2 separate regions of the Homo sapiens genome follow, and region 2 is linked to region 1. The links come from fine-mapping of genetic effects on plasma protein levels. Region 1 holds a variant in brackets. A gene starts in the other region. All regions are shown on their forward strands.

Region 1 (5,380 bases):
TTTTTTGTCCATGTACCTGCCCATTTTAATCACCACATCTGTTTACTTCCTGACTCTCATCTGCATTCCTGCTTTTACTCTGCCTGACAACCCATATCCCTTCAGAAAACTGGTGCTTAGAACCCAGTGTGTTCATACAGGCTAGTACTCATATATAAATATATGCACTCATTTCTATTTTCTTCTTCTTCTTCTTCTTCTTCTTCTTCTTCTTCTTCTTCTTCTTCTTCTTCTTCTTCTTCTTCTTCCTCCTCCTCCTCCTCCTCCTCTTCCTCTTCCTCTTCTTCTTCTTCTTCTTCTTCCTCTTCTTCTTCTTCCTCTTCTTCTTTTCTTCTTCTTCTTCTTTTTTTTTTTTTTTGAGATTGAGTCTTGCTCTGTCACCCAGGCTGGAGTGCAGTGGCATGTTCTCGGCTCACAGCAAACTCTGAATCCCAGGCTCAAGTGTTTCTCCTGCCTCAGCCTCCCAAGTAGTTGGAATTACAGGTACCCACCACCATGACCGGCTAATTTTTTAATTTTTCGTAGAGATGGGGTTTTGCCATGTTAGCCAGGCTGGTCTTGAACTCCTGACCTCTGGTGATCTGCCCGTCTTGTCCTCCCAAAGTGTTGGGATCACAGGCCTGAGCCACTGCACCCAGCCTGAATTTGTTACTTCTGATTCGTGTCAAAAATGGCAAACACAAATTTCACTTCAGGGAATGGAGGATAGAATGATAGAATTGCATGGTTGAAAGACTGCATGGACCTTTAGTGGGCATTGTGGAATGATACTTTGTCTCAGCATTTGGTCATTTGATCTCCTTAGCTTTACATTAATGAGACTTCACCACCTCCATATATCCTGCTGCTTCCATCAAATTGTTATGAAAGATAGCAATCCTAAAACTTCTCTTCATTCAGACCTTTTGCTCAAAAGTAAGTTTCCTGAGACATTTTGCTACAAACTCTGAGTCTATGAGAAATTTGGACCTAGGAAGTGAGCTTGTAGCATGGGCCAGCTAAGAGAAATTTTAGTTGACTATTGTTCCTTTTATGGCTAACATGATAGACATACGCATTTGGATAGTATAATGGGATCCTCCGATGCCAATGTGGTGTCATAGACGACCAAGACTGACATGTTCTTCCTGTGATAGTGGTGGAGAGTGTGCCTCGATAACTCTGTCCATCACCTCGGTAGCAGTCCTGGACCCCAGTGCTGTTTTCAGTTGGTGCTGAAATTAAAAGAGAAAATCAAGCTCAGTATTGCCTAGAAAAGGGAAATGTGAAAAAAATTATGACACACAAAGTGGAATAATCTGAGGATTAACAATTTACACTCTTCTATATTAGCATGCAAATTGAAATGTAGAATAAAAATACAAATAGACTTATAGGATTCTAGAAATTTAATAAGTAGTCATAAATATTTTAATTCAACCCTGGAAAACAAACAAACAAAGAAACAAACAAAAAACAGATCAGAGTGCCTATACTTCAAAATTACACTCATGTGAATGGTCTTTTGCTTACACCTCTTCTGGGTGTTCATGAGAACAAGGCAGGAGACCAGGGTGCCATGCATCAAGCTGTTCAGGCTATAGGTGGTGATTGGCTGTTAGTGGGGGGTATACATGAAACCCTTGCACACTAGACCACTGCTCCTCCAAAGCAAAAGCCTTCAGATTCTGGGGTGTGGGGCAGAAAAGGATCTTGCATCTAGGACTTGTAGGTAAAGACACATTGCCTCTCAGGGAGAAGGAGTACAGGCCAAAATTTTATAGCCTAGGAGGGGAGACAGGGAATCTTGGGCCCAGGATCCCTCATTACAAGAAAGCTGACATCCACTACTCTTCTTCTCAAAAAACAACGGAGATAAATGTTCCATGAGAAGCAGGGATGAGAACACTGAGAAATCCCTTCCCTCAAATCCTAGGTGTGGAAGGCATGCCCAAGATGAAGGTAGGCTGGGGAGATAAACAATTTGGTGGCTATGTACTGCTTCAAAGTCTCAGGACAATACGGATCTAATGAAGACATGTTAGGTTTCTCAAGAACAACAGCCTCAAAAATGGCATTCCTTCAAAATGGTAAAGCTGAAGACTGCAATAAACACTGCCTACTTGAAGAAAGGGCTGGACAGGCTTAGGAGCTTGGTATATCTTCACAAGTTTGGCAGGATGTTAGAATATCCATCTTGGCTAGGACACTAATATGATTCGTTTGATAACAGGGAAGTGATAAATCCAGTGTCCTAGAGGGTCTGTGCCCCTTTTAAAGACACCATCCCTCACAAGGCACTCAACATCCCAGCTCTGGTCCCCCCAGAGAAGGCACTGAAGCTTCCTTCCCATTGGCTGTCCATGACTTCACCTTCGACTTCCTGTGCAGCATGGAAGTTTTCTGCATCACAAAGATTTTGCAAATCTTTTTATCCCAATGTCCGAGGGTATGGTTGTCTGACTGCAGGCTTCTTACCTTCTTCAGAAGGAAGCTCTGTGCTTGGAACTGGGACCACCGTGGGAGTTGTGAGGAGAGTTGATTCCATCACTGGACATTGCGTCAGGTTGCAGTACTCCCATCTGACACTGGGATCCATGGTATAACACCAAGGGCGAATCTCAGCATCTGGATTCCTGCAGTAGTTCCTGGTCAGGCCACTGCAAATTCCAAAACAATACAGGTCACCAGAGATTGGAGAAGATACAGCACCACCTGGCACCCTCTATGTTTTCTTGTAACAAAGTGTAAACAAG[C/G]AAATTTGAAATATTCTCACTAAAGTCCCATAACACTCACAAATGGTCCTCAACTTCTAAACAACTGTCAACATTTCAAAGACAGCTTATGATTCTTATTGTAACACATTCAAAGTAATCTATGCTTTATAAGAAAACTGAGAGAAAACATCAATGTGTACCAGAAAGGATCAGAATACCCTCCTTCTACCTTCTGCCAAATACATTCCTTTGGATTAACCGAGAGGGATTTTGAAGTGTGTCTTGGAGATTGTTTCACGTACATACAAATGTTTATCTGTCAGGCTGTCTGTAAGTCTCTATAAAACTGCATGATCTATTCAGTGTTTGATTTGCTGATTTGTTATTTACCTAAGCAATCCATCCACATGATCTACATTCATGAATTTATTTACATACAGTTGATCTCAATATCTACTTCTCAGCTTTCACACCTGGAGGATGCTATAGCAATGGCATCTCTCTCCTGTTACTCATGATGGTGATGGATATGCTCCCTCCTTGGTCTGTCATCTGTTTAGCCAGACTTTGGCCAATCATATAGACTTTTCAAAGAACCTAACTTTCTGTTTCATGGATTTACTCCTTTGTTGGTCTATTTTCTTTTCCACTGAATGTCATTGGTTTGGACTATTTCCTTCCATCCTCTTTCCTTGTGCCTTATTTGCTTTTCCTTGCCTAGATATTTAAGCTGTGGTCTTAGATCAACAGCTGTCAAAGCTGTTGTTCATAGGAACCCCCTTTTTTTCTTTTTAGCTTTGAATTGAGGCAACTTAACTATGATATATCCCAGTAAATCATAGAGTTTTGCTCTTTAAAATTCTATACCTGAGTCATTTAGCTTCTTGACTATGAGTTTCTTGTTTTCTGTATATTTGGCGTGTTGCGAGCCATCATCGCTTCAAGTATAATGTCTGTCATGATATCTTTTTCTTCTCCTTCTGTGACTTGCCTAACACATATATTAAATGTGTGGATTTTTCCTAGATGCCCTTGAGGCTCTGTTGATTAATAGGTTCAGTCTTTGTGTGTGTGTGTGTGTGTGTGTGTGTGTGTGTGTGTGTGTGTGTGTGTTTCTGTCTGTTGGTCTGTCTGTCTGTCCTGTGATTTGTGTAGCTCCTATTGAATTATTTTCTAGGTCACCTTTCCTACCGTAATGTCTAAAGTGATGATAAGGCCATCCAGTGAGTTCTTCATTAGAGATGTACCTTTTCTCAGTTCTTTAATTTTCATTTGGCTCTCCGGTTCTTTTCTTTTCTCTTGCTATTCTGCTTTTGTTTCTCTCATGGTCAGCTTTTGCTGACATTTTCCTGAAACACAGTTCTCAGAGGTGCATTTTAAATGTTCTCACCAATGTCATCAATTCTATAATTTCTGGGCCTGTTTGTGTTGAGTGATTTTTTCTCCCAGTTATGTATCACAGTGAAAGCTTCTTGTGTCTCTATTAAATTTTTAAATAGAAGTAACGCAATAGGAATGCCATATAACTGAGCAACTTGTATTTGTCCCTTGCCTCTAAGGGGGGTTGAGTTTTTTTTTTCTTGTGGAATGCAGTTAATTTACTTGGAGATCATTTGGATCCTTTTAGACTGGCTTGGAAGAAGGGTTGTTGGAGTTTTTCTGGAGTCACCTTGATTCTAGGAATAAGATGATCCCAATCCCAAAATACAGCTTTCTTTGGTCTCTACTGAATGCCCAAAATGTAGTGAGGTGTTTCTCCTCTGAGTGGTCAGAATTCAAATATCCCCCAGTGCTATGTGAGCTCTGGCATCTCCATTGAGCTTACTGTTCCCCTGCAGTTGTTCTTTCCCAAGTAGCTTTTCTTTGTTGTTCTTTCTTTATGAAAACTCTCCCTGTGCATACGCAGCTTTGTATTTAGCCAAAGCCTTGAGGAGACTTCTGTGTGTATTCCTGGAGCTCCTTTCTTCCACAAATCCCTTCTCATTCTTAGCCAGCCTAGAACACATCAGCTGCCTGAGGCATCGCAGACTCCAGTCTCTCTCCTCAGTTAAGCAAGACTGCTGTGGTCAGCTGGGCTCCATCTGCTTGTCCTTCAATCCAACACTGTGTCCAGGAAGGAAGACAGGTTAATGATGAAGTTGATCTCCTTTGATTCCCTTTCTCAGTTCTCTCAAGCCTACCATATCTGTTGTCCAACCTGTGAAAACTGTTTTCTCATGTATTTGATAGTCCTTCATGGCAGAAAGGCTGGCATAGCCAGACATGGGTTTCTGTCCATCTTCCTGAATGTGTAACTCTTCAGCATCTCTATACTTCCTGACTCTCAGCTGCCTTCCTCCTTTTGCCCCTCATGGGCTGGCAACACATAGCTTTTCAGACACCTTGTTCTCAGAACCCAATGTGTTTATACAGGTTAGAGGAGAAAGTGATCGGAAGATCTCGAAGTCAATATAGATATCCTTCACTTGTTACCCAAGACAAACATGGCAAACACAACCTTCACTCCAGGGCTTGGAGATTAGAATGACAGAATTCCCTGGTTGAACTATTTCACTGGTCTTTAGTGGGCATTGTGGAATGGTGCTATTTCTAAGCACATGGTCATATGTTCTTCTGAGCTTTCTATTCATGAGACCTCACCACCTCCAAGTATCCTCCTACTTCTATCAACTATGAGAAAAGAG
Region 2 (5,380 bases), not on the chromosome of region 1:
GAGGCATCCCATAATAAACCATAGTGGAGTCTAGTTTTCACTGAACAATACTATAATATTTTGTGGGAAAGTCATGGGCTAACCTAACTTTCATTTAACGTGCATTCCTGGGAAACTTACAAAACTATCTAAGGCTAAGATTAAAACAAATTTTAAAACCTTCACCATTCTCTAAACCCATGACCATGAAAGACATTACTAATTAATCAAGGACTTTCTTGAACCAGATCTTCAGCTGCAAACCCCTGAATCATCAATTCACCAATGAATTAACTTGATTTCAACAAGAAGTTTCACGGTTACCAAGGAGGCAAGGCCCTTTCCACCTTTCCCACTGTCCAGCTCTCTATCCCAAGTCCGAACAGCAATCTCCAGCTAACTAATCTAACTAATTCCTGATGATCTTAGATGAAAGACTTTCATCCCAAATCCATCCATCTCCCCCACTTCCCTCCTCCCGTCCATGGAAAAAATGTCTTCCATGAATCCGGTCCCTAGTGCCAAAAGATTGGGGACCACTAAGGTAGAAAATCGGTTTTAAAGCATTCTTGGATAAAGTCCAACTAAGCACCGAGAGGTGTTCAGTTTCCAGCAACTGTGCGTTGAAGCCTCAATGTTCTCTTTTTTGGGTATCCATCTCATGAAGCAAATTCTTACAGGCAGCAATTGCTTTGAAAATTTTTTCAGTATTTCTTAACCCGAGGTTTTTAAAATGTACTAAGAGTCTTCATAATTCGATCCTCCTCCACTTCCAACTTTCCATCTTTCAACCTGTTTCTTTGTATTTCTCCTGAGAAAAGTTACATTTTCTAGACATTCATCAGGGTATGGCCTCTTTACAGGACCAGTATGAGTCACTACATAAATTATACACATATATATTTATAAATTATCTAAAATCTAAATAAATGTTAAAAATATATTTATAAGTCTAGCCCTTTGAGCTTTGTCCTGAAATATTATTTTTAGGAGCCTGACAGTGTGTTTATTTATTTAGCCAATGAATACGTTACCAATAAAGGTGAAACTGACTTTTCCCCTAAGGGGTTTCGTTTACCAGGAAAACGAACGTAAGTTGAGGATAGGGGTAGAATACAGGCCAGAATTTTGTTCTTGAAAGAGTAAGAGGACTTCTGGTTTTGAAAGCTAGAACTGAACTCAAGAATAATAAAGTGGAGATAACAGTACACATCTCGGTTTGGACAAAACGTAAGAGTGGACAGAATCAGGGAAGGCTGGCCTTCCTAAACATTGGAGCTTTCCAGGAGAGTCGGGGGAAAAGAGCACAGCTATGAAATCCTGTGAGAAATTCCAACAAACACCAGGAAAAAAGATACACTTCCTTGAGCAATATTACTCAACTCAGACTTATGTTTGATTCAGAATGAAAGAATTTTCTTTTCCAATAAATTAAATCATGATAATGGCATCTTTCATGAATTTAAAAATGTGTTAAATAGTATCAGCTATCTAGAACATAGTGAGGCGAACACTAAATCGGCATCCCTTGCAGTTTCCTTGGTTTCAGGAAAATCATTATTTGTGCTCAGCTAACTGGTCCCTTCCAGAGTTTTCATGCTAGACTCAAATCTAAGTATTTATTATAAATATTATAAAATATAAATTATATTATATTTCGTATAATAATATGAAAAGGAAATTAAATGCTTCTCTTTTCTTCAACTCAGTCTCCGCCAAGGCAGGAAGAACTTTTAAAGTGGTGCGTTAGTTTAAGGAGAATCATAAACCATCAGGATTCTTTAATCTGGCTAAAGACAGGCTCTTTGTTTCTAACTTCTGATCACTAGCGCCCTCCTCGGGAAAAAAAAACACGACAGGTTTCTTCCACCAACAGGCTGCTCCCTGTTTCTGGTTCTCATAAAAGAGAAATAGAAGAGCTTTGGAAGCCAGTGGCAACGATAGAGGGGATTGCTAAAAGGGGGTGCTTCTTCCCACCAAGGACACTTTGGACGTATCTATGGATTTATTTGGGTGCGTCCCAAAAATCCATAGCGACAAATCTCTTCTGGAAAATCAAGTCTTTTGGTTAGCAAAGGCATGGGGGAGTGACACCATGGCACAAGGAGAGGGGAGAGAGAAGCTGGCTTTTGCACCCGCAGCTCAGGGCCCCAGACGCATCGCAGAGCCACGGGTGCCCACGAGCAGGGTCAGCTCTCGGGGGCCCTCTTCCGCAGCCCAGACCCGGGACAGGAAGTGAGGGAGCAGGGACAGATCCCGGGGAGGCGCGCGCTCGGTACCCGGAAGGCGGCGGCTTCACGCTCGCGGCTCCGCGGCCAGGTCGGGGTGAAGGGGGCGCGGGAGTCCGCATCGCCGCCGCCCCGGCACAGCAGCCACAGCAGCCACGGCAGCCACGGCAGCGCCCGCACGTCCATTGCGGCGCCCGGCTCCTCTGCCGCCCGCGCGGCCTGTTTTCTCTTTCGGTTCCTCGGCTCCTCCCAGCCTGGGCTCGAGGGGCGGAAGGAGCTGGGTTGAGTGCACGATGCTGAGATTGACCCTTTTTTAGGTCCCCGGTGTTCTGTGACTGAAAATCCGGTCAGCTGGAGGCTACGGACCTCCTTGCTGAGGCTAGTTTTTTTGTTTTTGTTTTTGTTTTGGAAGAGTCAGGCACTTGACCATGTGCTTTCGAGGTTTCACTTCCATCCATTAGAAAAAAAGAAGCCTGAGAGTCATTCTTTTGTGTGTGTTGAGATCAGGTCTCACTGCAGCCTCGACCTTCAGGTTCAAGTGCCTCCTGCCTCAGCCTCCGGAGTACCTGGGACTACAGGCGCGTGCCACCACCCCAGGCTATTTTTGTATTTTTAGTAGAGATAGGATCTTGCCATATTGCCCAGGCCGGTCTCGAACTCCTGGACTCTAGTGATCCACCCGCCTTGGCCTCCCAAAATGCTCACAGGTGTGAGCCACCTGGCCTGCCCTGTGAGCCACCGGAAGCTGCCTTTTTCCTTCTTGCCACAATCCCTAAGTTCAAGACCTAGTTCTGAAGTGATGTGGGCCAATACATAGAGTCATCCATTCAGCAGATGTTTATAAATACGTAACAAAATTGTACAGATGTGAAAAGCATACACAGTTTTTGGATCTATTATGGCAGTTTCAAAACTCTTGAAGCCTGTTTCTCCGTTTGCAAAGGAAGATAGAGCCAAGTACATAATTTGCAGGGTTCCGTGTAAACTGAAAATGAAGTTCCCTTGTTCATAAATTGTGAAGAATTTCAAGACGGCAACAGCAGAGCATTAACCCAAGCCATGGGCCTTCTAAGCACCCACTTCTGCACAGGTCACACACTCATGAACCTGGCTCTACCGAGCCTTTCTATTATCATCTATTCTGAACAAGGCTTCCATGTCTGTGAAATTCATATCATTACCCTTGTAGATTTTTAGAACTAACATCAGATTTATGTCTTTAGTTTTTACCTAGGTGCAGTGAGTTACAATATTCTCCAATGCAAACTTCGTAATAAAAATAAAAATAATGTTCCGAGTATTAAGAGGAAAGACACAAGAGTTTTTTATGTACGTTCATGATAAGATATATTGCTCTTGGCAAGTGTGGTGATAAAGATTTTATTTAAATCATAAGTTCACAGAACGATGTTCATGTTTACCTCAGCAGTTCTTTTGTACTTAGCCCTTTTTTGTGACTCATACAAGCACATACTTTTCTTTTTAAACTGAACTTTGCTTTCAGATCATAGTCCCTGTTTATTGACAACCTACGGAGTCAGGAAATTTAAATATAGGCAGTCATCTTTACTTTAGGATAATTGGTATTGTAAAAAAGCCCCTTGAACTAAACTCATTTCAGGAGCTCACATCAAGTATTTATTGAGTACCTGCTAAGTGTCAGGCATTCTTCTAGGTAATGAGGATATATCAAGTAAGTGGATAAGTGACTAAAGGGATGAAAATCCCCATCCCTATGGGACTGATATTTCAATTGATTTACATCAACAAATATTTTATTGAGTACTTCCTAAGTGTCAGGCATTGTTCTAGGTCATCAGGACACATCATGGATGGAAGTGCATAAGTGACTGAAGAGATGAAAAGCCCCACCCTGTTGAAGCTGGTATTTCAGTGAGGGGGAGAGACGCAATAAAATTACTACAGGTTGAGGATCCCTTATCCACAATGCCTGGGTCTGGAAGTGTTTCAGATTTCAGATTTTTTCCCCCCAGATTTTGGAATATTTGCATATACATAATGAGATCTCTTGGGGATGAGACCCAAGTCTAAACACAAAATTCATTTGTGTTTCACTTATGCTACTGACTGAAGGTAATCTTACTGACTATTTTAGGTAATTTTATGCATAAAACAAGGCTTTGAATGCATTTTGACTATGACCCACCACATGAAGTCAGGTGTGAAATTTTCTAGGTGTGGCATGATGTCAGTACTCAATAAGTTTTAGATTTTGGAGTATTTTGGGTGTTTGGATTAGAGATGCTCAACTTGTACATGTGTTAAAGGACAATAAATCCAGATAAGGAGCATCATCAGTGTGAGGGGTGGTACTGCTATTTTAAATAAGCTGTTCAATACTGTCCTCACTGATGAGGAGAGTTTTGAGCAAAGATTTGAAGGAGAAGAAAGTGAGCCACATGGATATTCAGATATCCAGGGAAAGAGAAGCTAAGACAGAAAGAACTGTCAACACAAAGGCCTTGAGATGGAAGTTTGCTTGGCACGTTCCAGAAACATAAAAGACGTCAGCATGGATGGAGTAAAGGAAAAAAAAAAGGATGGGGGAGAGTAGAATATGAGATAAGTAAGAAGCGCACAGATTGTGAAGAATTTTGGGTCAGTTAAAAGGGAGATCAGAATCATCTATTAAGTAGTAAAACAAAGTTTTTGAAAAGTGGCTTGAAAAGTGAAGGTGGCAAGTATCTGCTAATTCTTAGAATAAACACTACAAATTACATGTATATGTAGAGATGTGTTTTTTTCATCAAATTTGCAAAATAGCACATGGAACTTCCCTCAACTCTGTATTAGATATCTATTGCCATGTAAAATATAACCCTCAAACTTAGCATCTTAAAAATACGAATTTTTCTTATCTTAAACAGTTTCTGTGGACCAGGAGGGAGCAGCTTATCTGGGTGGTTCCAGCTCAGAGTGTCTCATGAGGACGCAGACAAGCTGTTGCATATGGCTGCAATCTTCTGAAGGTTTCCCAAGTTTAAAGGATTCAATTTCAAGCTCATGTGGCTGTTAGCAAGAGTCCTCAGCTCCTCTTAGGCCTTTGGACAAAATCCTCAGAACCTTATCAGAAGGCTGGGCTTTTCCTGCCAGCTCTTTGTTCCTGCAGAATGAGTGAATAGAGAAATTGAGACAGTGGACCAGGGAATGAC

Direction of the effects. Alleles are on the strand shown, and positions count from the first base shown. The strength of an association depends on the size of the effect and on how common the allele is.
In carriers of allele G in region 1, the plasma level of the protein whose gene starts at base 2,412 in region 2 tends to be higher than with C alone (weak association).

Evidence for each region. PIP is the posterior inclusion probability: the model's chance that the variant is causal. The UK Biobank Pharma Proteomics Project read protein levels with antibody pairs (Olink). The fine-mapping took linkage between variants from a reference panel, not from the people measured, so its PIPs are less certain.
Region 2: CTSO starts here. The variant in region 1 is fine-mapped to the plasma level of the CTSO protein (UK Biobank, PIP above 0.99).

What each region holds. Positions count from the first base shown.
Region 1 is chr6:160,583,992-160,589,371 of GRCh38, forward strand. It overlaps LPA (lipoprotein(a)), which reads right to left. Exons shown (of 39, transcript NM_005577.4): 25 at 2,458-2,639; 26 at 1,055-1,214. Among named protein-coding and RNA genes, the nearest start is that of LPA, 78 kb to the right of the region's middle. The variant C/G (reference allele first, on the strand shown) is at 2,736.
Region 2 is chr4:155,951,455-155,956,834 of GRCh38, forward strand. CTSO (cathepsin O) reads right to left here and starts at 2,412. Exons shown (of 8, transcript NM_001334.3): 1 at 2,259-2,412. The coding sequence starts at 2,393. RefSeq lists an enhancer at 3,523-3,817.